7 linked regions of the Homo sapiens genome follow. The protein of the gene in region 4 purifies or fractionates together with the protein of the main gene of each other region. This does not show direct contact. Each region holds a gene or a part of one and is shown on either strand. Other genes may lie near its edges. The genes, in order: EIF3B, RRP12, RPL22, NFX1, PRRC2C, HNRNPM and RBM5.

Region 1 (3,500 bases), on a different chromosome or scaffold from region 4:
GGTACCTGTTTCTCCCTCATTCGGAAAATTTCAAAATTTGTGACAACACCCTGTTTAAAAAAAAGGGGGAAGGGGTGACATTCTGGACAGTGAAAATATGAGAAAAGGTTTAAATCAAAGATCAACGTCACAATGAAAGATTCAGTGTGCATGCCTGGTTCACACACGAGCATGTGCAGTGATGAAAGCCACAGCCCTCAGGATGGAAGACGGTTCTAAGGCTGGAGAACTGCCGGCACCACGTCTACTGGAAGCCACTGGACATGCATGAAGTAACTCTGACCCAGATCCCACCTCCAGGAGCCGCCCTGCCCGCCACACTTGGGCACAAGCAGTCCCAGGGTCCACACTGCAGGCTGCAGGCCAGGGTCCTGAGGGCCCTAAAGGCACACCAATGGGGCTGGGTAAACCACTTCAGACAGTGGGGTGTCCTGTAGCCATAACCTTCAAGAAGTCCTGCCCTACTCGAGGAGTCTGAGGGAAAACTGCCCTGATGTCCATCAACAGAGGAAGGAGGCCAAGAAACGGGGTCCACCCAACAAGAGATTACTGCTGACACTCAGCACCGTGGACCAGCTGTGGGAACGCTGTGCTCCGTGAAGGAGGTCAAACACAGAAGGTGGCATAGTATCCGATTCCAGCTGTGTGTTCAGAATAGGGAAATCATAGACATTCGTGATGCCAGGAGCTGGGCGGAGAGGCTGCTAACAGGTATGTTGTTTCTTTGTAGGGTGACAAAAACATTTATTTATTTATTTATTTTTGAGACGGAGTCTCACTCTGTTGCCCAGGCTGGAGTGCAGTGGTGCAATCTCGGCTCACTGCAAGCTCCGCCTCCCGGGTTCACGCCATTCTCCTGCCTCAGCCTCCCGAGTAGCTGGGACTACAGGCACCCGCCACCACGCCTGGCTAATTTTTTGCATTTTTAGTAGAGACGGGGTTTCTACTAAACCCTCGATCTCCTGACCTTGTGATGCCCCGCCTCAGCCTCCCAAAGTGCTGGGATTACAGGCGTGAGCCACCGTGCCCGGCCTTTTTCCTATCTTTTAAAAATTATCTGTGGAGATGGGGTCTCACTGTGTTTCCCAGGCTGGTCTGAAACTCCTAGCCTCAAGCTATCCTCCCTCCCACCCCGGGGGAGCCACCGCACCCAGCCGATGAAAACGTTCTGAAATGAGTGGTGGTGGCTGCATAACTCTGAACACACGAAAAACCACTGAACCAGTTCACCACTCTAAAGGGGTGTTTTCAGGCATGTGAACTACATGTCAATTAAAGCTTTCTTAACATAAAAGAAAGAAGAATACTTCTATTAGAGGGAAAACTCAGGAATTTCTTTTTTTTTGTGAGACGCAGTCTGGCTCTGTCGCCAGGCTGGGGTGCAGTGGCGCAATCTCGCTCTGTTCACTGCAAGCTCTGCCTCCTGGGTTCAAGCGATTCTCCTGCCTCAGCCTCCCGAGTAGCTGGGACTACAGGAGCCTCCCACCACGCCCAGCTAATTATTGTACTTTTAGTAGAGATGGGGTTTCACACCACGTTGGCCAGAATGGTCTCAATCTCTTGACCTCATGATCCGCCCACCTCGGCCTCCCAAAGTGCTGGGATTACAGGCATGGGCCACTACACCCAGCCAACTCAGGCAATTTTTTGATAAAATAAATATTAAATGATCAACCACCAAAAATAAAAAAATAAAAAAATAAATCTTGAGTATACTACTCCTTGTGCTTAGAAAGAAAATAATATTCTCAGCCAGGCACGGTGGCTCACGCCTGTAATCCCAGCCCTTTGGGTGGCCAAGGCGGGCAGATCACCTAAGGTCAGGAGTTCAAGACCAGCCTGGCCAACATGGTGAAACCCTGTCTCTAATAAAAATACAAAAATTAGCCAAGCGTGGTGGTGGACGCCTATAGTCCCAGCTACTTGGGAAGCTGAGGCAGAAGAATCATTTGAAACCAGGAGGCAGAGACTGCAGTGAGCCGAAATCGCACTCCTGCACTACAGCCTGGTGACAGAGTGAGACTCCATCTCAAAAAAAAAAAAAAAAAAAAAAAAAAAAAATCCATTAACACCCTCCAAACAATACGGTGGCCACTTCAGAGCTCAGGATAAGGAATCGTCAGTTCCTGTGGGAATCTACATACCTGGGTGCCTTTCGGAGTCCTATCTACTTTCACACACAAGTAGTCTCCGTTCTTCTGCCAATGGAGCTTGCAGTCCACCACATTGAACAGGTTCCTCACTCGGATCTCTTGCCTGGTAGGGAGCTGCATCAGGGTTACCCTGGCTGGAATATCTTTGTCTTCAGGCACCCAGAAGGCGATTATGTTACCACCAGGAGACCAAGAAAAGTCTCTGCAGAACAGGAAAATAAAATGTTAAAGCAAAGACCAAGTGATGACGAAACTGAAAAGCAGAAGAGAATAGAACAACTCATTTGCTATATAGAAGCTCAATGCTGTCACAGCTGACGCTGAGCGCTCCCTCTGCACAGCCACTGCTCTGGGCATGCCGCGCAGCTTCATAGGTCCTCGCCAGGACCCTGTGGCACTACTGTGCTCACTGTGACAAGGAGTGAATGCAGACAGAATATTAGCAACCCCACCATCACGCACAGACTCATATGGACTCCAGCCTGGGCTCCGTCAGCCCACTCTTAAGACACCGCACACTGCTGCTTTGAGGCAAATAAGTTTTAGGCTGACGGATCTGGCTACATGTCATCTAAAGATTAATTAAGGTGCAAATGGGGAAAATGGCAAATCAAGTGTAAGGAATGAGCAAGAACAAGGGCAGCTCCCTCCACTTTATCAACTACTCTACAGAAGAGCTGCTGTAACGAACGGCTCCTGAGCTCACCTACATGAAAAACATCTTTATACACGCTATGTGCTGTTTTGCATTTTTTGAGAACCAACGTCCTGGTCTTTTCATTTTATAAGCCATAATTTTGCCCAAGAATGTAAAAACGAAAGAAGAAACGTCAATGTCCTTGGATTGTTGGAAGTTCACTGCCGTGATACTGACCAGTCCCAAGTTTTGCGATAAATAAAAACGTGCCCATTCTTTGCTGGTGAAAATGAGCCGAAGGCTCCCCAAACCCTGCCTCGGATGGAAGAGTACCAGGAAAACCTTTCACCTAAGCAGAGTCCCCTCTTTTCCTTAAAAGGCTGGAAACCCCACCCTCCTCAGTTTCTAGATCAAAGACGAGGTAGATGGAAGGAAGCCGACTCAAGGCTCTGGCCTTGAAAATTCATTTCTAGGCACGGGAAGGGGTCACTGAAGTGGTGCCTCAAGGGTGGCGGGCCCAATGCTGAGCAGCCTTGCTGCCCACTGACTCAAGCCTCCATCCTTGTGTCCAGAACAAACTCACCTTAGGCCGGGCGCGGTGGCTCACACCTGTAATCCCTGCACTTTGAGAGGCTGAGGCGGGCAGGCGGATCACTTGAGGTCAGGAGTTCGAGACCAGCCTGGCCAACATGGTGAAACCCCGACTCTTC
Region 2 (3,500 bases), on a different chromosome or scaffold from region 4:
TCAGCTTTCCGGATGTTGACCAGGACTCTGTGGTACTCCTCGGGCAACAGCCTTTTCACCAGCTCAAATCTGGAGGTGGCAAGGAAGGGCTGGTGAGAGGCACTGGCCAGACAGCACGACCCAGATGTAGTGTCCCTGGTAGGACTGGAAATCCTCGGCCCCTCGCTTGCCCTACCCCCGCCCCTGCTCAGTGCACAGACCCAAACTTGCGGATGAACTTGGTGAACAGGTTCCGAAGCTTCATGCGGAAGTGCCGCCGCATGTCATCTGAAAGCTTCCCAATGGCTTCCATCTGCCGGACAGAGCACCAGGCTTTCAGGGAGGCGAGCCTTCCATGCTGCGCCCCCTTTACTGCTGTCCAGCCCAGGGACGCAGCATGATCAAGCCCAGCTGAGGGGAGGGTTAGCGCGGCCCTGCTCCTGGCCCACACCCTGGCCCAGTCATGCTTCCCTCGGGTGGGCAGGCCCCATCTTTCCCCTGCACCCTCCTTCAGGACACAGGCCTGAGCACCCTCGCAGGATGAGAGCTTTAGTCTTCTCAACAGCACTTGGTACTTGACATATATCCTCTCCTTGAATCCTTGGACTACCCCTGAGATACATGCTATCACCCCCTATTTATAGAAGAGGACACGGCGGCACAGAGGATAAAGTGTTTGCTAAATGGCCATAGAGGTGGGAGTTCAGCCCAGACTCATCTAATGCTGCGGCTCCCGCTTTGCCCCTAGCACCCCAAGATTTCTCTTGGTCCCCTATGTCCCTTCCATCTCACTGCATTCTGCTCTGGCTGGATTCCTCTTAAGCCTTCATCTGGCCCAGTTTGGGTTACATGTGCAGGTGGCAGATCTTCTTATCTCCAGTGACTCCCAAACCGGCTAGGGGATAGGGTCCACGTCTACTCCTTTTTTTTGAGATGGAGTCTCGCTCTGTTGCCCAGGCTGGAGTGCAATGGCACGATCTCAGCTCACTGCAACCTCCACCTCCTGGGTTCAAGCAATTCTCCTGCCTCAGCTTCCTGAATAGCTGGGATTACAGGTGCCTGCTATCACGCCTGGCTAATTTTTGTATTTTTAGTACAGACAGGGTTTTACCATACTGGCCAGGCTGGTCTTGAACTCCCAACCTCAGGCGATCCGCCCACCTTGGCCTCCCAAAGTACTGGGATTACAGGTGTGAGCCACTGTGCCTGGCTTTTTTTTTTTTTTTTTTGAGACAGAGTCTTGCTCTGTCACCCTGGCTGGAGTGCAATGGCATGGTCTCGGATCACTGCAACCTCCGCCTCCCAGGTTCAAGCAATTCTCACACCTCAGCCACATGAACAGCTGGGACTACAGGCGCGCACCACCATGCCTGGCTAATTTTTGTATTTTTTAGTAGAGATGGGGCTTCACCATGTTGGCCAGGCTGGTCTCGAATTCCTGACCTCAAGTGATCCACCCACCTTGGCATCCCAAAGTGCTAGGAATATAGGTGTGAGCCACCGCTCCTGGCCTCCCCAACCACTCTTGGAAGGGCTTCTATAAATCCCTTTTTTTTGAGACAGAGTCTTGCTCTGTTACCCAGGCTGGAGTGTAGTGGTGCAATCTTGGCTCACTGCAACATCCGCCTCCCAGGTTCAAGTGATTCTCCTGCCTCAGCCTCCCGAGTAGCTGGGATTGCAGGCACCTGCCACCTCGCCCAGCTAATTTTTGTATTTTTAGTAGAGATGGGGTTTCACCATGTTGGCCAGGCTGGTCTCAAACTCCTGAACTCAAGTGATCTGCCTGCCTTGGCCTCCCAAAGTGGTGGGGTTACAGGTGTGAGCCACTGCAGCCGGCCAGGGCTTGTATAAATTCGAATAACTCCATGATGGATCACTGCTCTAGCTGTTCTCCCCACCTTTGGTCCCTAGTAGGCTGCAGGCTCCGAGGGCAGCGGGAGGGCATGCTGATTCTCATCTGTCCCTTCCTATCTTGAACCCAAGGCCAGACCCAAAGAAAATATGCAAGAGGGACCCAGAGGTCTGATGTGACTCAAGCCAGTCACACATGGGAAACTGAGGCAGTAGGTACAGTGCACAGCTTGGCTGGAAGCCTACGCCAGCCTGGGCAAGGCTTCTCTTGGGCAGGAGAGGGCCAGGGACCCTATACCAAGGGGCTCTTCAGATCCTTCTGCAGCCCAGCAGGGGACCCAAAGGAATGGCCTCTAACCAGCAAGGTCAAAATGCAAGATGGGAAAAAAAAAAAGGCAAGATGAGGGGGTCCTGTGGAGGGAGAGCCCAGCGTCTGAGTCCCATGATCTGGAAAATCTCTGGCCCAGTTTCTCCATCTGTAAAATGAGGAGTGGCCCTGCCCATGGGCCTTTGCCCTGAAGAGCCCCTGTTGCTTTCCATGTAGGGCTCTGGGGTGAAGAAAGCCACCTGGGCAGTGTGCCCCCTCCTCGCCTCCACCTGACAGGCATTCCCCTATGGTCCCTTTTAGGGCTCCTTAATGACCTCTGGCTACAAAAAAAATAGTTTGAAACTTGCTGGCCTCGAAGCTTGCCAGGTCCATGCCAACAGCTCAGAGGCCACCCTGCTACCTGCTAAGGGGAACGGGGACACTCACCACCAGCTGCACATGTTTGGCCAGGTGCGCCACGTCCATGACAGTCACTGCCACCTTGATGAAGCCCAGTGCAGACTTGACCACGTCACGGGTGCGGGAGGCCAGAAGCAGGCACACATTCTCCAGCAGCTGCTCCACTGTACTGGTCCCCATCAGACCTGTGGCAGTGAGGGGGTCACTGTCTAAGACACCCAGGACCCCACTCAGACCCAAACCTTCCCCACTGGAAAACAGCCACTCAAGTGTCAGTAAAAGCTGACATTGAGAGCCTTTCCGTATGCCCGGGATGGTTCCAATCACGCTCCATGGAGTGGTCTTGGGTCCTTTCGTCACCCTGAGGTGGGTGCTATTTCTTGCTTCCATTTTAGAGATAAGAAACTGAGGTGCTAAGAGGCTAATCAAGCTGTTCTAGGTCTCATGTGGTTGCCAAGAGGCAGGACTAGGACTAAAATCCAGGCATCAGCCCTAACCACCTCCTAACCACTCTGACAATGGGATGCAGGGCCACTGGACTGCACAGTCACACGTGGGGACAGACCTGAGGAAGGTGCCTTGGCATAGCCGCAAGGGCGGGAGGCAGCGACCCGCAGGAAGGGAGACAGGGAGGCAAACTGGGCTGGGTGTGGCTTTTCTTACTTCCTCCAGGCACCTTTTCCCAGTTCCAGGAGCCACTTTATCCTGACCTTTTGGGCATCTTCCTAATCTGAGGGCTTCTCAGGCCTTCTAGGAAATAAGCATTTACCTTTAAACTCGAAAAGGAGGTGGGTCAGGGCCAGGATGCTGCAGCTGACCATGGTCACCGCGCCCACCAGGCCAGGGTAGATCAGGACGAGGTAGCACTGCAGGGCCTCTGGGGACAGAGACCAACGTGGGTCAAGCAGGAAGGACCCACCAGGTAGGGGGGCTGAGGGCCAGA
Region 3 (3,500 bases), on a different chromosome or scaffold from region 4:
TCTGTCTCAACAGAATATTTTATCTGTCTCCCAACACTGAACTAATATCATTTTTTGTTTTGGTTTTGGAGACAGAGTCTCACCAGCGCAATCACAGCTCACTGCAGTCTCAACCTCCCAAGCTCAAGTCTCGACCTCCCAGACTCAAGTGATCCTCCCACCTCAGCCTCTCAAAGTGCTAGGATTACGGGCATGAGCCATCCCACCTGGCCCCAGCTGACTTTACAATTTTTTTTTTTTTTTTTTGAGATGGAGTTTAGCTCTTGTTGCCCAGGCTGGAGTGCAATGGCGCGATCTCGGCTCACTGCAACCTCCGCCTCCCAGGTTCAAGTGATTCTCCTGCTCCGCCTCCCAAGTAGCTGGGATTACAGGCATTCGCCACCAGGCCCAGCTAATTTTGTATTTTTAGTAGAGACGGGGTTTCTCCACGTTGGTCATGCTGGTCTCCAACTCCCGACTTCAGGTGATTCGTCCACCTCTGCCTCCCAAAGTGCTGGGATTACAGGCGTGAGCCACTGCGCCTGGCTTAACATTTTTAAGAGAAGGGGTCTCTCTATGTTGGCTAGATTGGTCTCAAATTCCTGGGCTCAAGTGATCCTCCCACCTCAGCCTCCCAAAGCGTGGGGATTACAGGTGTGAGCCAGCATACCTGGCCCTAATATCGGTTTCTTAAATGTTCAGTCTTTTTTAAAAATGGTAACAAATCCCATTTACATACATACTATGAGACAACATCCCAGTGTAAACGTACTTGACTACTTCCACACAAGGCCGACTGGGCCTCGCCACGAAAGGCTTAGAAGGACAACACTAGACAGGAAACCCAAGGCCAGACTTTTACAAGATACGCCTGTAATCCCAGCACTTTGAGAGGCTGAGGTGGGTGGATCTCCTGAGCTCAGGAATTTGAGACCAGGCTAGGCAACATGGCGAAACCCTCTCTCTACAAAAAATACAAATATTAGCCGGGTGTGGTGGCATGTGCCTGTAGTCCCAGCTACTCAGGAGGCTGAGACAGGAGAATCCCTTGAGCCCAGGAGGCGGAGGTTGCAGTGAGCCGAGATCACACCACTGCACTCCAGCCTGGGGGACAGAGAGACCCTGTCTCAAAAAATAAATAAATAAAACAAACTTTTACAAGGTACATGCAACCAAAGCTAAAAGCAACTTCTGAATCTAAGGAGTATAAAACACTGTTCACAGCACTATCAGAAAATAAGCCTTCAACCTAGTAGAAAGAGCAAAGACATAGGGACTGAAACAATTCTAGACCTGGTCCAGGGCCATGTGTGGTACAGCAGAAGCAGCAGCCACTCAGGAGCCTGAGATATTCTCTGCAAACTACTGTGTGGGCCTCAGCAAGACATTCACCTCCTTGTGCTTCAGAAAGCTTTGCCCAAAAAGGACCTTTTTAGTTGTTTTCTTGCTATGGCAATGACATGAAGTCCCTTTCAGCTCAAAATTCCTATAATTTTCTGTTTAAAAACTCCAATACAAAATATGTTAACTGGCTGGGTGCAGTAGCTCACACCTGTAATCCCGGCACTTTGGGAAGCCAAGGCAGGAAGATTGCTCAAGCCCAGGAGTTCAAGACGAGCCTGGGCAACTTAGGAAGACCCTTCCTCTACAAAAAAATTTAAAAATTAGCTAGGTATGGTGGTGCATGCCTGTGGTGCCAGCTATTCCAGAGGCTGAGGTGGGAGGATCACTTGGGCCTATGAGGTTGAGGCTGCAGTGAGCCAGGATCATGCTACTGCCCTCCAGCCTGGACAACAGACCCTTTCTCAAAAAATAAAAATTTGGGAGACTGAGGTGGGCAGATCACGAGGTCAGGAGATCGAGACCATCCTGGCTAACATGGTGAAACCCTGTTTCTACTAAAAATACAGAAAATTAGCCAGGCGTGGTGGCGGGCGCCTGTTTCCCAGCTACTTGGGAGGCTGAGGCAGGAGAATGGCATGAACACGGTAGGCGGAGCTTACAGTGAGCCAAGATCGTGCCACTGCATTCCAGCCTGGGCAACAGAGCAAGACTCCGTCTCAAAATAAATAAATAAATAAAAATTTGGGGCCAGGCGCGGTGGCTCACGCCTGTAATCCCAACACTTTGGGAGCCCGAGGCAGGCGGATCACAAAGGCAGGAGATTGAGACCATCCTGGCTAACACGGTGAAACTCTGTCTCTACTAAAAATACAAAAAATTAGCCGGGCATAGTGACAGACACCTGTAGTCCCAGCTATTCGGGAGGCTGAGGCAGGAGAATGGCATGAACATGGGAGGCGGAGCTTGCAGTGAGCCGAGATCACACCACTGCACTCCAGCCTGGGTGACAAAGAGCAAGACTCCGTCTCAAAAAAAAAAAAAAAAAATTTGGCTGGGCACAGCGGTTCATGCTTGTAATCCCGATACTTTGGGAGGCCGAGGCTGGCAAATCACCTGAGGTCAGGAGTTCAAGACCAACCTGGCCAACATGGTGAAGCGCCGTCTCTACCACAAAAATACACAAATTAGGTGGGCATGGTGGCACACGCCTGTAATCTCAGCTACTCGGGAGGCTGAGAAAGAGAATCACTTAAACCTGGAAGGTGGAGGTTGCAGTGAGCCAAGATCACACCATTGCACTCCAGCCTGGGTGACAGAGTGAGATTCCACCTCAAAAATAAATAAATAAAAATAAAATAAAATGGCCAGGCGCAGTGGCTCATGCCTGTAATCCCAGCACTTTGGGAGGCCGAGGTGGGTGGATCACCTAAAGTCAGGGGTTCGAGACCAGCCTGACCAACATGGAGGAACCCCATCTCTACTAATAATACAAAAATTAGCCAGGCGTGGTGGCAGGCGCCTATAATCCCAGCTACTCGGGAGGCTGAGACACCAGAATGGCTTGAACCAGGGAAACGGAGATTGTGGTGAGCCGAGACTGCACCATTGCACTCCAGCCTGGGCAACAAGAGCAAAACTTGGTCTCAAAAAACAAAGTAAATAAAATAAAATAAACAAAAAGTATACATTAACCATAGATGGGGCACAGAGTGATTAGGTCAGAAATCTTGAATTCTGCATCTCAAGATTCATAAATGACTTAAGTTTTCTATCCTAAGGAGGCTTCCAGAAGGAAAGACAATCACACAAACAGATGAGTGGGCTGAGGGAATGGCTCAGAGGGAGGGAGGCAGGAATAATGCCAGAACAGGGCCACCATGTGAATACCAAACTGGAAGACACCAAAGTTGAAAAAGAGGAGGCCACAGAAAAGCCAGAAGTCACTGGATAGAGAAAGAACTAAGGAAATAGGGGATTTCTTGAAGGACACAGATGCAAACAGCATCTACATAAAGGCAATAAACTATAAGAGGTTACCTAAATTCCATTCTGGATAATTCGTGACCATAATTATTTTGTGTTTAAAAATTATTTTTGTTGTAATGATACTGATCCTGGCAATAGTTCAACCTTCTGGAGAATTTAGAGCAAATGCAAATTTAGGAGACTTCTACACA
Region 4 (3,500 bases):
ATGGGGCTAAGTAACTTTCCTGAAGTTAAAATAAGTGATAAGTGACTTAAACCCATGTCTTCCAGGTCTTACCAATTTATAGTATATTCTGTATGCTACACATAGTTCTGACTTTGCTACTAATTTTATGTCCTTAGGCAAACCATTTTGTCTTTGTGCTTCAGGGACTGAATTGACTGTACCAAGAAGCATCTTCTGGGGGAACATGAGTGGGTTGAAGGGGAGTATGCTTAATTTTTTCCACTTTGGGATTGTAGACCAGATTATAGAGGTTATGTATGGAAAACCCAAAATATATTCCTAGGGGAAAGAGATGAAAACTAATACACTTATTAAGTACTATCTATGAAATCATATTTAAATTTCTCAGTAACCGTTGAAATAAGTATTGTCATCCTTTACCATAGACAAGGAAACTAAGGCTAAAAGCAGGCACGTGATATCCCTAAGTTCATACAATAAGTTGGACAGGTGGACTTTAACCCATTTTGGCTTAGTCCAAAGCCTGTTTACTTGATATTACACAATGCTACTTTACTGTTTTGAAAGAAGACCACATGGAACCTGATGATTGATACCCCTGAACTGTTAGCTGGCCTTAAATTTTTGTAATAAAATGAATAGATGTATACATAGTACTTTATGGCCCAGGTGAGCATTTTTACTCGACAACACTTAGCTGTCATTGGCTATTGGTGTTTGGTTTTTGGACATGGAATAATGATTGATTAGTCCTCCACAAGCACCTTGAACCCATCACCTTCACTGGAAACATAGTTCTTACTTAACAGCATGTTTTATACAAAGTTCTAAGGAAAGTAATTTTTAGATTTGGCTTGGAGTCTATGAGTTTCATGGATGAAGTTTAATCTCTTTACTGGCATGTCTATTTTTTATGTCCTAGGTACTTTTAAATTCAATACAGATGCTGCTGAATTCATTCCTCAGGAGAAAAAAAATTCTGGTCTAAATTGTGGGACTCAAAGGAGACTAGACTCTAATAGGATTGGTAGAAGAAATTACAGTTCACCACCTCCCTGTCACCTTTCCAGGCAGGTCCCTTATGATGAAATCTCTGCTGTTCATCAGCATAGTTATCATCCGTCAGGAAGCAAACCTAAGAGTCAGCAGACGTCTTTCCAGTCCTCTCCTTGTAATAAATCGCCCAAGAGCCATGGCCTTCAGAATCAACCTTGGCAGAAATTGAGGAATGAGAAGCACCATATCAGAGTCAAGAAAGCACAGAGTCTTGCTGAGCAGACCTCAGATACAGCTGGATTAGAGAGCTCGACCAGATCAGAGAGTGGGACAGACCTCAGAGAGCATAGTCCTTCTGAGAGTGAGAAGGAAGTTGTGGGTGCAGATCCCAGGGGAGCAAAACCCAAAAAAGCAACACAGTTTGTATACAGCTATGGTAGAGGACCAAAAGTCAAGGGGAAACTCAAATGTGAATGGAGTAACCGAACAACTCCAAAACCGGAGGATGCTGGACCCGAAAGTACCAAACCTGTGGGGGTTTTCCACCCTGACTCTTCAGAGGCATCCTCTAGAAAAGGAGTATTGGATGGGTATGGAGCCAGACGAAATGAGCAGAGAAGATACCCACAGAAAAGGCCTCCCTGGGAAGTGGAGGGGGCCAGGCCACGACCAGGCAGAAATCCACCAAAACAGGAGGGCCACCGACATACAAACGCAGGACACAGAAACAACATGGGCCCCATTCCAAAGGATGACCTCAATGAAAGACCAGCAAAATCTACCTGTGACAGTGAGAACTTGGCAGTCATCAACAAGTCTTCCAGGAGGGTTGACCAAGAGAAATGCACTGTACGGAGGCAGGATCCTCAAGTAGTATCTCCTTTCTCCCGAGGCAAACAGAACCATGTGCTAAAGAATGTGGAAACGCACACAGGTAAACCTACCTAGATAGGAAATATTTTGTTGTCTTTTTAATTTAAATTTTTAAATAAGTCATATATTCACATAATTTAGAAAGCAGAAAGTATGGAAAGTTACACTGTAAAAAGTCTCAATCTTTATTCACTGTCTGCCTAAGTTCTACCACCACTCGCTGCTCCCTGCCCCAATAGGTAACCACTTAGTTTTATGCATATCACAAGCAAATACAAATAAGAATTCTTTTTCTTTTCCAAATGAGGAATTTTGTAAGGGTTTTCAAAAATGCAAATACGGGTGGTGTAGATGTCTGGTTACAAGATTTTTTTTGAGTTGTGAAAACAAGTGGTGGGTGGTAACATCTCTGCTGCCTCTTTTGGTTTCATCCTGCATCATCTAATCTGCCTCATCTGGTCTGCTTAGTTGCAGCAGTTCCTAACTGGTCTTATCATCTCTTAATTTCTCTCTTTCAGTTCACCTCTTAAACCAGCATCAGAGAGCAATCTTTATAAAACACATATTTTATTTATTTGTTTTTTTGAGAGGAGTCTCACTGTTGCCCAGGCTAGAGTGCAGTGGTGCGATCCCAGCTCACTGCAACTCCTCCTGGGTTCAGATGATTCTCCTGCATCAGCCTCCCGAGTAGCTGGGATTACAGGCGCCCGCCACCATGCTTGGCTGATTTTTGTATTTTTAGTAGAAATGGGGTTTCACCATGTTGGCCAGGCTAGTCTCAAACTTCTGACCTCGGGTGATCCGCCTCGGCTTCCCAAAGTGCTGAGATTACAGGCGTGAGCCACTGCGCCCTGCCTAAAACACACATTAAACTGTGTCACTCCTCTGCTTAATTCCGTTTACTGCTTCTGCCTTACTCAACAGTCCCATCTTCTGCTGCCTCAATATCTACCACATTTTATTCCCTGGATTCTACACTTTTTTGTCTTTGCATGGTGTTGCATGTGGCTCCCTCTCTTTAGAATTTCTGTCACTCAGTTCGCTGACGAAGTCTTACTCATTTTTCAAAAGCTACTTTAGGCCAGGCATGGTGGCTCACACCTGTAATTCCTGCACTTGGGGAGGCTGAGGTGAGAGGATCACTTGAACACAGGTGTTCAAGACCAGCCTGGGCAACATAAGGAGACCCTGTCACTACAAAAGAATTAAAATAAAAAAATTAGCCAGGCATGTTAGCACATGCCTGTAGTCCCAGACACTCAGGAAGCTGAAGTGAGAGGATCACTTGAGCCCAGGAGATCGAGGCTGCAGTGAGCTATTGTACTCCAGCCTGGATAACAGAGCAAGACCCTGTTTTGCGGGGGGAAAAAAGTTACTTTAGTCACATGTCCAGGGAACCTTTTCTCACCTTTATAGATAGCGTTAATCTCTTACAGCCCTCACGCTTATGTCTTTCTCTTAAATTTGCATGCTTCTATTACAGAACTTACACTGGAAACCATAATTTATTTATGCTTCATTGTCCTCCACTAGTCTGTAAGCTCCTTAAAAACAGACACTGTATATTTCTTTTCTTTTTTTGTGACCCTGCTGCCCCACACAGCTCTTGAAACATAGTAGGTACTCAGTTCTGACCATTAAAAAGTTCA
Region 5 (3,500 bases), on a different chromosome or scaffold from region 4:
AGGGGAAAGGGGGGAAGAAAATATATATTAAAAAAAAAAAAAAAAAGAAAGAAAATGGGGAAGTCTATAATAATTGATATTACTTCTTTGCTATTCCAAAAAAAAGTGTGCATCTAAACTCAGATCTCCCTCAAATATTTATTTGATAACAATTCATTTGGCCACAGTTTAAGACATTAATTCATTTCCTGACTACAGTTGCAAAAAAAAAGAAAAAGAAAAAGAAACAAAAAGAAAAAAAAGATGAAAGGAATGGGAATGGGGGAAAAAAAAGAAAAAAAAGGGGGAATGAATAAAAGTAGTTAGCTTGGTTAAGTCTGCTAAGACAATGAATGCCTGGATATACAGTTATGGGTCCAGAGGCATTTTAAGACATGGTTCAGAGACAGATTCTTGATCTGTTGGCTGTTAACACTGTACTAACCTTCATGTCTTGTTCAGCCTTCAACGCAGCCTGGGCCTGATTACCTCTGACTCCAGATAGTGATCCACAAGGACCCCTGGCTACATGTGGCAAACGAGCATGGCTCATGAGGCCTGTGGTCAGCGGAGGAGGCATCTGACTGGCCAGTGCCATTGGTGGCCTCTGAACAGGCGCTGGGAAGGTGTTAGTATGTGGGGCTCTTACCAATGGAGGGACCAGGTTAGGCTGGGAGAGAATCTGAGTGAAAAAAACAAAACATACAACATTGAACTGTTAAAAAAAAAAAAAAAAAAAAAACTGCCAACTAGACCAGGTTGGCTCATCCCAGAGTAAATCTGTGCCCATCCTACCAGTGAAAGGAAGTGTACAGATTGTGCCATTCCATTAACAAGGACAAGGAATAAACAGGCCATGCTTGGAGAGTTTAACAGAAAAACTAGGCAAAGCATGCTATGGCACTTCAGTTGGTCCTAGCATCTCAGTTGTAAATTCTGAAGGGGGGATAGAAAGACTTTTAATTAGGCTATCTTTTCAAAAGGTAGTTGCAGAAAAGGCACACACCTGTAACAAATGTAATCTGAAGATAAATAAAATCAATACTAATTCAACAAATGTGAATTTCTCAGGAACCAGTTCTAGTTTGTGAGAGTTCTTAGTCCTTTTATACGATCAGCAAGGGGAAGAGAAGCCAACATTTTTTACATATATTAAAACATCTTTTTGGAAATTTTATCTCAATTGCACATAAATATCTTAACAACAACAAAAAACAACTTTAAACCTAGAAAACTTCAAGCACTGGGACCCTTCGCTGAAAAGTCAACTCCTTAAAAAAAGTTAAAAGGAAAAGGACTCATTATCAGAGCTGTGTGGGGAATCTTTTAACTATTTCTCTTGTCTGCTTTAGAACTAAACAATTACCATGTCTGGCTATAAATCGCAGACTATCTTTATAAAATAAATTTATTGTTAAATTCAGAAACAATTTTTTATTAAAAACTGTACTTCTTAACTGGTTAACATAAGGCAAGATAATAATTTATCAGATTAGCAACTATTTTTAAGTAAATAATACTCATTTCTTAATTATGTCTGCCCACCTGGGGTGCAAACTGTGTAGGAAATGGTTGTGTCATTCTCACAGTGGCAGGGGCTGACTGGAACTGCTTCTGGTAGACAATGCTGTTCATTTTGCTGGACTGGCTGTTCGGACTTGTAGAAGTAGCCCTTGGAAAGAAGCCATTACTAGTCAGTATAGTAATACCAAGTAAATAATGCTGTTAGATTTTTGCAAACACCGTTCTTGGTATTTTCATCATACTTGGTAGTTGGTAAAAATTTACTATGATGATTACCAAAACATTCTGGTAGAAGAGAGACATTGGAGGAGCAGAGGTAAGAAAGGATACCAGTTACCAGTTAGATTGGCTGGTTCGAGACCAGCTTGGACAATATTTTTTTAAAAATTAGCCAGGTGTGGTGGCACGTGTATGTAGTCCCAGCTACTCAGGAGGCTGAGGCAGGAGGCTTGCTTGAGCCCAGGTGTTTGAGGTTGCAGTGAGCTATAATCATGGCACTGCACTCTAGTCTGGGTAACAGTGTGAGACTCTGTCTCAAAAAAAATAAAAGAAAAAAAGGTTTGCTCTGTAACAAAAGAATTTACTTAAAATATAGTACAATAAACACATTTTAAATAATTTAAAAGCTTAACATTTTAGACAAAACTATCAAAAAGAATGTCTTAATAATTCCTTTTCTGCTTGGAAAAGGGATTATGTCACACAGGACTGATAAGTATTTAACAAATAGTGACCAAATTGGAATTTCATAAGCAAATTTAAATGCCCATTTTACCGGAAGGGACTAGATGTTGGTGTGGTGCTTCTACCAGCGATTGGAGGTGTGCCTGGTTTTATATCAATGCCACTTCCAAAGGCTTTTAGTTCCATTTCAGACATCTGAGGAGAAGCATAAAATAAACTTAACATTTCTTTAATTCCACAAGCTAAGTGCTGTGTTTACATGTCCTATACGTGAAGACGTAATCTAGGAAAGGGCAAAGAACCTTAGTACAAAACTCCTATAGTTAGGCTTCAAGTATTATGGAATTACCTGACCAAACAGACTTATAATTAAATAAGCCCAAGAGACACTATAAATCCAATTCTTCCAATAAATTTGTGAATTCTTTGTTATTAGGTAAAAACTAGATGGGGCCAAACACATTAAAAGTAAATAGATAAAATGTAAATATACTGGGGTTTGAGATTTTTGCAGGGTGGTAAAAACTGACGCATTTTAGTTTTTTAGATAACACAGATGCATATATCTGAACACACTACCTTAAATTCTCAAATAACCTGTGCAAATGTCTCTTTACTTACTTTTCCTGTGGTTGCAATCATGCTATGCTGTGTTCCAGCAGGAATTAATCCTCTGAAAGGCTGGCTTACTTGTGCAGGACGACTCAGACTCTGAGCCTGTGCTTGGGGAGTGGTATGCTGTAATGGGGGCTGAAGAGTCTGAGGCAAAGCAATTAGAGGTTGCCCTGTAGATCCAAAATTAGGCAAGGAAAGCTGCGATGCTGGTAAAGGTACTGTAACCTAGAAAATAAGTAAAGAGAAACTGAAGCAATTTGTTTCTGTTTACTACAGACATATCCATACAACTATACACAACTCTTCAAATACTTTTGAGTAAGATTTCAAACAGAACACATCGGCCAGGTGCAGTGGCTCATGCCTGTAATCCCAGCACTTTGGAAGGCCAAGGCGGGCAGATCACGAGGTCAAGAGATCGAGACCATCCTGGCCAACATGGTGAAACCCTGTCTCTACTAAAAAAAAAAAATACGAAAATTAGCTGCATGTGGTGGCATGTGCCTGTAGTCTCAGCTACTTGGGAGGCTGAGGCATGAGAATCACTTGGACCCAGGAGGGGGAGGTTGCAGTGAGCCGAGATCCTGCCACTGCACTCCAGCCTGGCGACAGAGCGAGACTCTGTCTCAAAATAAAATAAAATAAAATAAAATAAAATAAAATAAAATAAAATAAAATAAAATACATAGAACACATCC
Region 6 (3,500 bases), on a different chromosome or scaffold from region 4:
TTTTCAGGACATCACTTTTATACTATCACATCATCTAAACTTGAATATGTCCCTCCCCTTCCCCTTCCCCTTCCCTTGCCGAGACAGGGTCTCCCGCTGTTACCCCCGGCTGGAGTGTAGTGGTGCAATCATGGCTTACTGTACCCTTGACCTCCTGGAGCCAGACTGTCTTCTTTCTGCATAGCTGGGACCGCAGTTGTGCACCAACATACCTGGCTAATTTTTTGTATTTTTTTTGTAGGGACACGGTTTTGCCATGTTACCCAGGCTGGTCTCAAGACTCCTGGATTCAAGCACTCAGCTCACCTCAGCCTCCCAAACTGCTGGGACTGCAGGCATGAGCCACCATGGCCAGTCTGCTTGAATATGTGTCTCGAATGATATTTCTTTGAGGGTCATTCTCTACAAGTCTGTCAAGAATTAGTTGGTGGTGGTAGATTTCCAAAAAGGTCAATTTTTTAAAAGTTGGAAATGACAAGAGATAGTTCTAATCTCTTTACTGAGGAAACCTCTCAGAGGGAATGATTAGCCAGGGAAGGATTTGTTTGCAGAGGTGCTGTGCCCATTAAGCATGGTGAGAGCCGCTTTCTCAATGGTGAGTCATGTGATGTGGATTAACCCCAAACCAAATGCTCAGCTTCTGTGGTTAGATTGGATAGTTTATTCGTAGCCATGGTATGCACCTGTGGAATATAGGTTAGACACTTTGTTACCTGCTTTGGCTGTAATTATTTATTTATACATTTCGTAGTTTATAGGTGAGCTTAAGCAGTCTGGTGAAAGACTGGAAATAATTCATCATGGACTCTGTCAGAATGTTTTTTATTGTAAATCTTAAAGTATTTGGGACTTCAAAAGTAACAATATTAAAATTCATTTCCATCTGTGAATCCTCTGGTGGACCATGATGTGTAGATTCTGTTATGTTTTATGATTTTTTCTAACACAGTCGTCGTCATTTTCCAGGAAAGAGTAGGAGATGATTTGGCAGATAGATTTTGTTTGGCAGACTTTGGTGAAGGACTTTCTTTTGGAGTAGACAAGTGGCCTGGGTAACAGTTGTAGGTCTCCTGTGGGACCTGCTTTGTGGTGTGAAGCCAGTCTTGTGGACTCAGGTAGATTGCGTTCTAGGCATCTAGGGATTGGAGCTGCCATAACATCACCTTATCTGCCAGCCCGTGGGAAGGGAAGCCTGTTGATTGTGTATTGGTATAGTTGAGAGATCACAGAGGAAGCTGCTTTCCTTGGTTTTACCTTGTGTTGATTTGGGTGTGGCTCACACCAGTGATACCTCTGCTGGGATACCACTTGGCACTCTTGTGTTTGGGGACTACACAAAGTTGCTGACTTTAAAATTTTTCCAAGTAAATACGTTACTATTTTTGAGACAGGGTCTTGCTTTGTCAACCAGGCTGGAGTGCAGTGGTGCAATCATAGTTCACTGCAATCTTGACCTCCTGGACTGGAGCCATCCTCTCAGCTCAGCCTCCTGAGTAGCTGGGACTACAGGTGCACAACACCACACTCAGATAATTATTATTATTTTTAAAAATAAAGACAGGGTCTTATTTGTCGAACTCTTGGGTTTAAGTAAGATTCTCCTGCCTTGACCTCCCAAAGTGCTGGGATTATAGGTGTGAGCCACCATACCTGGTCTCAAGTGAATACTTTTGTTTGTTTGTTTGGAGACAGAGTCTCATTATGTCACTCAGGCTGGAGTGCAGTGGTGCGGTCTCAGCTCACTGCAACCTCCGCCCCCCGGGTTCAAGCGATTCTCCTGCCTCAGCCTCCTGAGAGGTGGGATTGCAGGCATGTGCCACCACGCCCAGCTAATTTTTGTATTTTTAGTAGAGATGGAGTTTCAGCATGTTGGCCAGGCTGGTCTTGAACTCCTGACCTCAAGTGATACACCTGCCTGAGCCTCCCAAAGTGCTGGGATTACAGATGGGAGTTACCACACCTGGCCTCAACTAAATAACATTTTAAAATAGTAGCTTCTCCAGCTACTATCTGGTGTTTCTTCCACGGAAGAAAGTTACATCCCAGAATAAAGATCGGCTCTTCAGTTAAAGATACTTTTATAAATCATTAATACTGTAGTCTTGGCTTTTTGGTTTTTTTTCCGGTTTTGTCATGGATTACAAATTCTGTAGTAGAGCCCGTGGTCTGGGAGTCACTGGATTCTCACTGGCGGGACACACAGGGCTGGGGAAGCAGAAGGTGCAAGGCTCAGTTGCTTAAGAAACTTGAGGTGGCTTCTGGCTCCTCACTTGTTCCTGATCAGCTCTAATCTGTGCCTCCCTGTAGTCAGAGGGGTTGCGCTTGAGCTGGCAGCTGAGGAAAGCGCCCTGTCAGCCAGTGCCCGGGCTTCCAAGCCTGATGGCTGCTACCTAGAGATGGTTAGTGTTAACAGTGTGGTGGCACCTAGCACACAAAGGTAAAGAGTGCAATGGGAAGGCCGTGCCAGAAAAGCAGCCACCCTTCTTTGCCAAAGGTGGGATTGTCTGCATGCTGTCTTCCACCTCCCAGGGTTGCTCAGACCCAAGTTTCCCAGCTTCAAAGTAGTAGGATTGTGTAGGGAGTGGTTTCTTTTCCACCTTTCTGGATTTTTAAAAAGTGGTTAAAATATACATAAAATAGACCATTTTAACCATCTTAAGTGTGCAGTGAAGTATGATGTTTTGCAGCAATCTGCACATTCCTGGAACTTTTATTCTCATCCCACATGAAATTCTATGCTCAGTATTTAATAACTTCCCATTTCTACCTCCCCCTAGGCCCAGGTAACCTCTGTTCTACTTTCTGTGTATGGATTTGCTTATTATAGGTATTTAATAAGTGGAATCATACAATATTTGGCCTTCAGTGACTGGCTTATTTCACTGAGCATAATGCCCTCAAGGTTCATGCATGTTGTAGCCTTTGTCAGGATTTCCTTCCTTTTTGTGGCTGAATAATATCCCATTGCATGGATAGTCCGTGTTTTGTTTATTCCATTCATCTATTGGTAGACACTTGGTTGTTTCTACCTTTTGGCTTGTGTGAGTAGTGCTGCTATGAACATTGGCATATGTGTATGAGTCCCTGCTTTTAATTCTTTTGGGTGTATACCTAGCAGTGGAATTGCTGGGTCATAGTAATTCTGTGTTTAATTTTGAGTGACTACCTAACTTTTCCATGGCGGCTGCATCATTTTATGCCCCCCCCCCCTTTTTTTTTTTAACACTATGAAAGACACTTATTTGTGAAGCTAAAATTGGATGGGCCTATGTGTACTACCTCATATTTCCATTCTATGAAGTCTTAGAAATCATCCCTCTCTTCTCCTGTTTCTGTCTTGGAATTAACACACCTTGGTCAGGGAGTTGGCCTCACCATTGTCTCTGTTACTGTCCGTAGGAGTATTTTGTGAGCCCAGGAAGGTGTACCTTTCCTTGGGAATGCTTTCTGCCCTGTGGAGCCTTGAGTTTGAATGTCTTAATTCAAAACCAACATTAGTC
Region 7 (3,500 bases), on a different chromosome or scaffold from region 4:
CTCCATCCTTTAGTCTAATCTCCCTGTCCTTTGTTCTGCAGGATAGTACAGTGGCTCAAGCCTATAATCCTAGCGCTTTGGGAAGATGAGGCAAGATGAGCGCTTGAGCACAGGAGTGTGAGACCAGCCTGGGGAACACAGTAAGACCCCATCTGTATACAAAAATTTTAAAAATTAGGCCTCGCATAGTGGCTCACGCCTGTAATTCCAGCACTTTGGGGGGCCAAGGCAGGTGGATCACGAGGTCAAGAGATGGAGACCATCCTGGCTAACACAGTGAAATCCCGTCTCTACTAAAAATACAAAAAATCAGCCAGACGTGGTGGCACGTGCCTGTAGTCCTAGCTACTTGGGAGGCTGAGGCAAGAGAATCGCTTGACCCCGGGAGGCGGAGGTTGCAGTGAGCCGAGATCGCGCCACTGCACTCCAGCCTGGGCAAGAGTGAGACTCCGTCTCAAAAAAAAATAATAAAATAAAATAAAAATTACCCAAGCATGATGGTATACACCTGTAGTCCTAGTTACCTGGGAGGCTGAGGTGGGAGGACTGTTTAAGCCCAGGAGTTCGAGGTTACAATGGGCTATTGCACCACTGCACTCCAGCCTGGGTGACAAAGTGCAACCCTATCTTTAAAAAAATAAAAAAATAAAAATAAGGACTCAGATGAGATTTAAAAGAGGCAGTGGATGCGTCACTGTGCCCTGAAGTACGCCTAATCAAGAATAGCCTTCCTGCTCTTTGAGGCCTACTCTCAAAATAAGGAAAAAAATCAACAGCCAAAAAATGAAGAGCCTGATGATAAACTTTTTTTTAAATTTTTTTGAGATGGAGTCTCACTCTGTTGCCCAGGCTGGAGAGCAATGGCATGATCTCGGCTCACTGCAACCTCCGCCTCCTGGGTTCAAGCAATTCTGCCTCAGCCTCAAGAGTAGCTGGGACTACAGGCGCATGTCGCCACACCCAGCTAATATTTTATATTTTAGTAGAGAGGGGTTTCACCATGTTGCCCAGGCTGGTCTCCATCTCTTGGGCTCAGGTAATCCACCCACCTTGGCCTCCCAAAGTGCTGGGATTACAGGCGTGAGCCACCGCACCAGGCCAGGTAAACATTTTTAATGGATCATACTTTTCTTACAGTTAAATTATTGGTAAAAATTTTCAAAGTTCATCACATTCTTAGGCTCCTAATAAATCAAACATTAATTGGGGCTAGAATAAAGTATTCTGGCTGGTAGGCTTGTTCCAATGTCAGACCAACTCCTTTTTCCAAAAGGCCACAAAAATATACTAGTCTCTTCATCAATAATATCAGGCATGAATACTACCATGAAAAAAAAAACAGGGTGAAATTTGTGGAAACAAGATTCTCACTGGCCTCTACTTTCCATAACTAGGTGCAACGGCTGCAAGACTACACACAGCCAATCCTCATTATCCTCAGGTATCACACCTGTGAATTCAACCACTCATTAAAATTTCTAACACTCAAATCAATACTTGTAGCAGTTTCTTTTTTTTTTTTTTTGAGACAGTCTTGCTCTGTCGCCCAGGCTGGAGTGCAATGGCACGATCTCGGCTCACTGCAAGCTCCGCCTCTCAGATTCATGCCATTCTCCTGCCTCAGCCTCCTGAGTAACTGGGACTACAGGCGCCCGCCACCACGGCTGGCTAATTTTTTTGTAGTTTTAGTAGAGACAGGGTTTCACCGTGCTAGCCAGGATGGTCTCGATCTCCTGACCTTGTGATCCGCCTGCCTCAGAATCCTAAAGTGCTGGGATTACAGGCGTGAGCCACCGCACCTGGCCAACCCTCAGTAATATTCTTTTAGGCTTAGCTAGACTTTTGAGAACTCTAGCCCCTAGCCACAATAGCACTTTGCCACTCATCCCTCTCCTGCCAAAAGCCTCTGACTCCAGCCAAATCAAGCCGATTGCTAGGCCTTATCTAGATTCAGTACCTTTCTATTCCCTGCTCATGTGATACCCCTCCGCCTGAAGGGCCCATCTACCACACCATTCCCTTAGTTTTCCACGCCTATAATCCTAGCACTTTGGGAGACCCAGGCGGGAGGATTGATTGAAGACAAGAGTTCAAGACCAGTCTAGGCAATAAAGAGAGACCTTGTCTCTACAAAAAAAAAAACAAACGATAAAAAAAAAAATTAGCTCGGAGTGGTGACACATGCCTGTAATCCCAGCTACTTGGGAGGCTGAGGCTGGTGGATTGCCTGAGCCCCAAAAGTTGGAGGCTGCTGTGAGCCACAATCACGCGATTGCACTCCAGCCTATGCGACAGAGTAAGGCCCTGTCTCACAAAAATAAAAATAGAAGATTCCTTACCCTCCACTAGTAACAATTTCCTTTAAATAACCTTCAAGAGCTCTTAGGCAGACCTCTTTCAATAGGACCTTTTCCGACATGACCCTCTTTTTGAGACAGGGTCTTGCTCTGTCGCTCAGGCTGGAGTGCAGTGGCGTGAACACAACTCACTGTACCCTTGACCTCCTAGGCTCAAGTGATCTTCCTGCCTCAGTCTCCCAAGTAACTGGGACCACAGACAAGCGCCATTAAGACTGGCTATTTTTTTTTTTTTTTGGAGAGATGCGTCTTACCATGTTGTCCAGGTTGGACTTGAACTCCTGGGCTCAAGCACTCTTTTCACCTTGGCCTCCCGAAGTGCTGGGATTACAGGCATGAGTTACCATACTCGGCCTCTGACCCCTTTCTATTCTGCATTGTCACCATTATCTGCTGACCTTAGCTACTCATCCATAAGCTTTTTTGAGGCAAGATCCATAGCTCTGTGTCACTGTAGCATCTAACATGTACAGTGTAGCAGATGTGCAGTGGATCACAAATAATGGAATGATTACCCACTATTAACTCTAATATCCTGTCTCACATTTGTCACATTCATTACTTCCAGGGTTTAGAAACCCAAAGCTACGGGAATCCAATGCTTATTTTGAGCTTTATCCAAAATTCAACTAAACATTAGTCAGAATATTACTTTGATTACTCCAAGAAAACAAATACTGGCACACTGCTGTTTTAAAACCTCACATTCATTTTTACCAAGAGCACTGGCTGAGTAACATACTGTGTTCAAGGGTTGGGGACACAGAGGTGACTAGTTCACACAGAGGCCTATTTTCAGAGATCTTGTGGTAGAGATGAGACATGTGTGTTGATGGCTACAGTAAAGGTGCTACACAAAAGTCATGAATACAGTGCCTTAGGAAGAGAATAACGAAGAAGAAGCTCTGCCCGATAGATCAGGCTTTACATACAGGCGTCTCCAAGCAGAAAAAGGCACAACAGTAGAGCAATGGACATGTCCAAAGTCCAGGATGTGGAAAGTAGGGTGTGGCTGGAAGGAAGGGTGAGGACCAGAGATGCTGCTGGAAATCAGGCAGTGCCAAGTACACTAAGACTCTAATTGGCCAGTCTGAATGAGCCGTCCTTTTTAACAAGCTTTTCTGAGGTTTCAAATGGGTAGTT

Evidence for each region.
Region 1: the proteins of NFX1 (region 4) and EIF3B purify together in Homo sapiens (affinity purification with mass spectrometry; 2 studies listed by BioGRID and IntAct, with this or other methods). This does not show direct contact.
Region 2: the proteins of NFX1 (region 4) and RRP12 purify together in Homo sapiens (affinity purification with mass spectrometry, with the first as the bait; one large-scale study listed by BioGRID). This does not show direct contact.
Region 3: the proteins of NFX1 (region 4) and RPL22 purify together in Homo sapiens (affinity purification with mass spectrometry, with the first as the bait; 2 studies listed by BioGRID). This does not show direct contact.
Region 5: the proteins of NFX1 (region 4) and PRRC2C purify together in Homo sapiens (affinity purification with mass spectrometry, with the first as the bait; one large-scale study listed by BioGRID). This does not show direct contact.
Region 6: the proteins of NFX1 (region 4) and HNRNPM purify together in Homo sapiens (affinity purification with mass spectrometry, with the first as the bait; 2 studies listed by BioGRID). This does not show direct contact.
Region 7: the proteins of NFX1 (region 4) and RBM5 purify together in Homo sapiens (affinity purification with mass spectrometry, with the first as the bait; one large-scale study listed by BioGRID). This does not show direct contact.

The regions. Positions count from the first base shown.
Region 1 is NC_000007.14:2,368,327-2,371,826, reverse strand, and holds part of EIF3B (eukaryotic translation initiation factor 3 subunit B), read right to left. Parts: intron 2,356-3,500; coding exon 2,145-2,355; intron 51-2,144; coding exon 1-50.
Region 2 is NC_000010.11:97,366,841-97,370,340, forward strand, and holds part of RRP12 (RRP12-like protein), read right to left. Parts: intron 3,435-3,500; coding exon 3,327-3,434; intron 2,743-3,326; coding exon 2,585-2,742; intron 293-2,584; coding exon 201-292; intron 70-200; coding exon 1-69.
Region 3 is NC_000001.11:6,193,096-6,196,595, forward strand, and holds part of RPL22 (large ribosomal subunit protein eL22), read right to left. Parts: intron 1-3,500.
Region 4 is NC_000009.12:33,293,516-33,297,015, forward strand, and holds part of NFX1 (transcriptional repressor NF-X1), read left to right. Parts: intron 1-904; coding exon 905-1,912; intron 1,913-3,500. UniProt on the Homo sapiens protein: Binds to the X-box motif of MHC class II genes and represses their expression. May play an important role in regulating the duration of an inflammatory response by limiting the period in which MHC class II molecules are induced by interferon-gamma.
Region 5 is NC_000001.11:171,586,530-171,590,029, reverse strand, and holds part of PRRC2C (protein PRRC2C), read right to left. Parts: intron 3,028-3,500; coding exon 2,809-3,027; intron 2,383-2,808; coding exon 2,279-2,382; intron 1,652-2,278; coding exon 1,525-1,651; intron 662-1,524; coding exon 425-661; intron 1-424. UniProt on the Homo sapiens protein: Required for efficient formation of stress granules.
Region 6 is NC_000019.10:8,451,475-8,454,974, forward strand, and holds part of HNRNPM (heterogeneous nuclear ribonucleoprotein M), read left to right. Parts: intron 1-3,500. UniProt on the Homo sapiens protein: Pre-mRNA binding protein in vivo, binds avidly to poly(G) and poly(U) RNA homopolymers in vitro. Involved in splicing.
Region 7 is NC_000003.12:50,095,419-50,098,918, reverse strand, and holds part of RBM5 (RNA-binding protein 5), read right to left. Parts: intron 1-3,500. UniProt on the Homo sapiens protein: Component of the spliceosome A complex. Binds to ssRNA containing the consensus sequence 5'-AGGUAA-3'. Regulates alternative splicing of a number of mRNAs.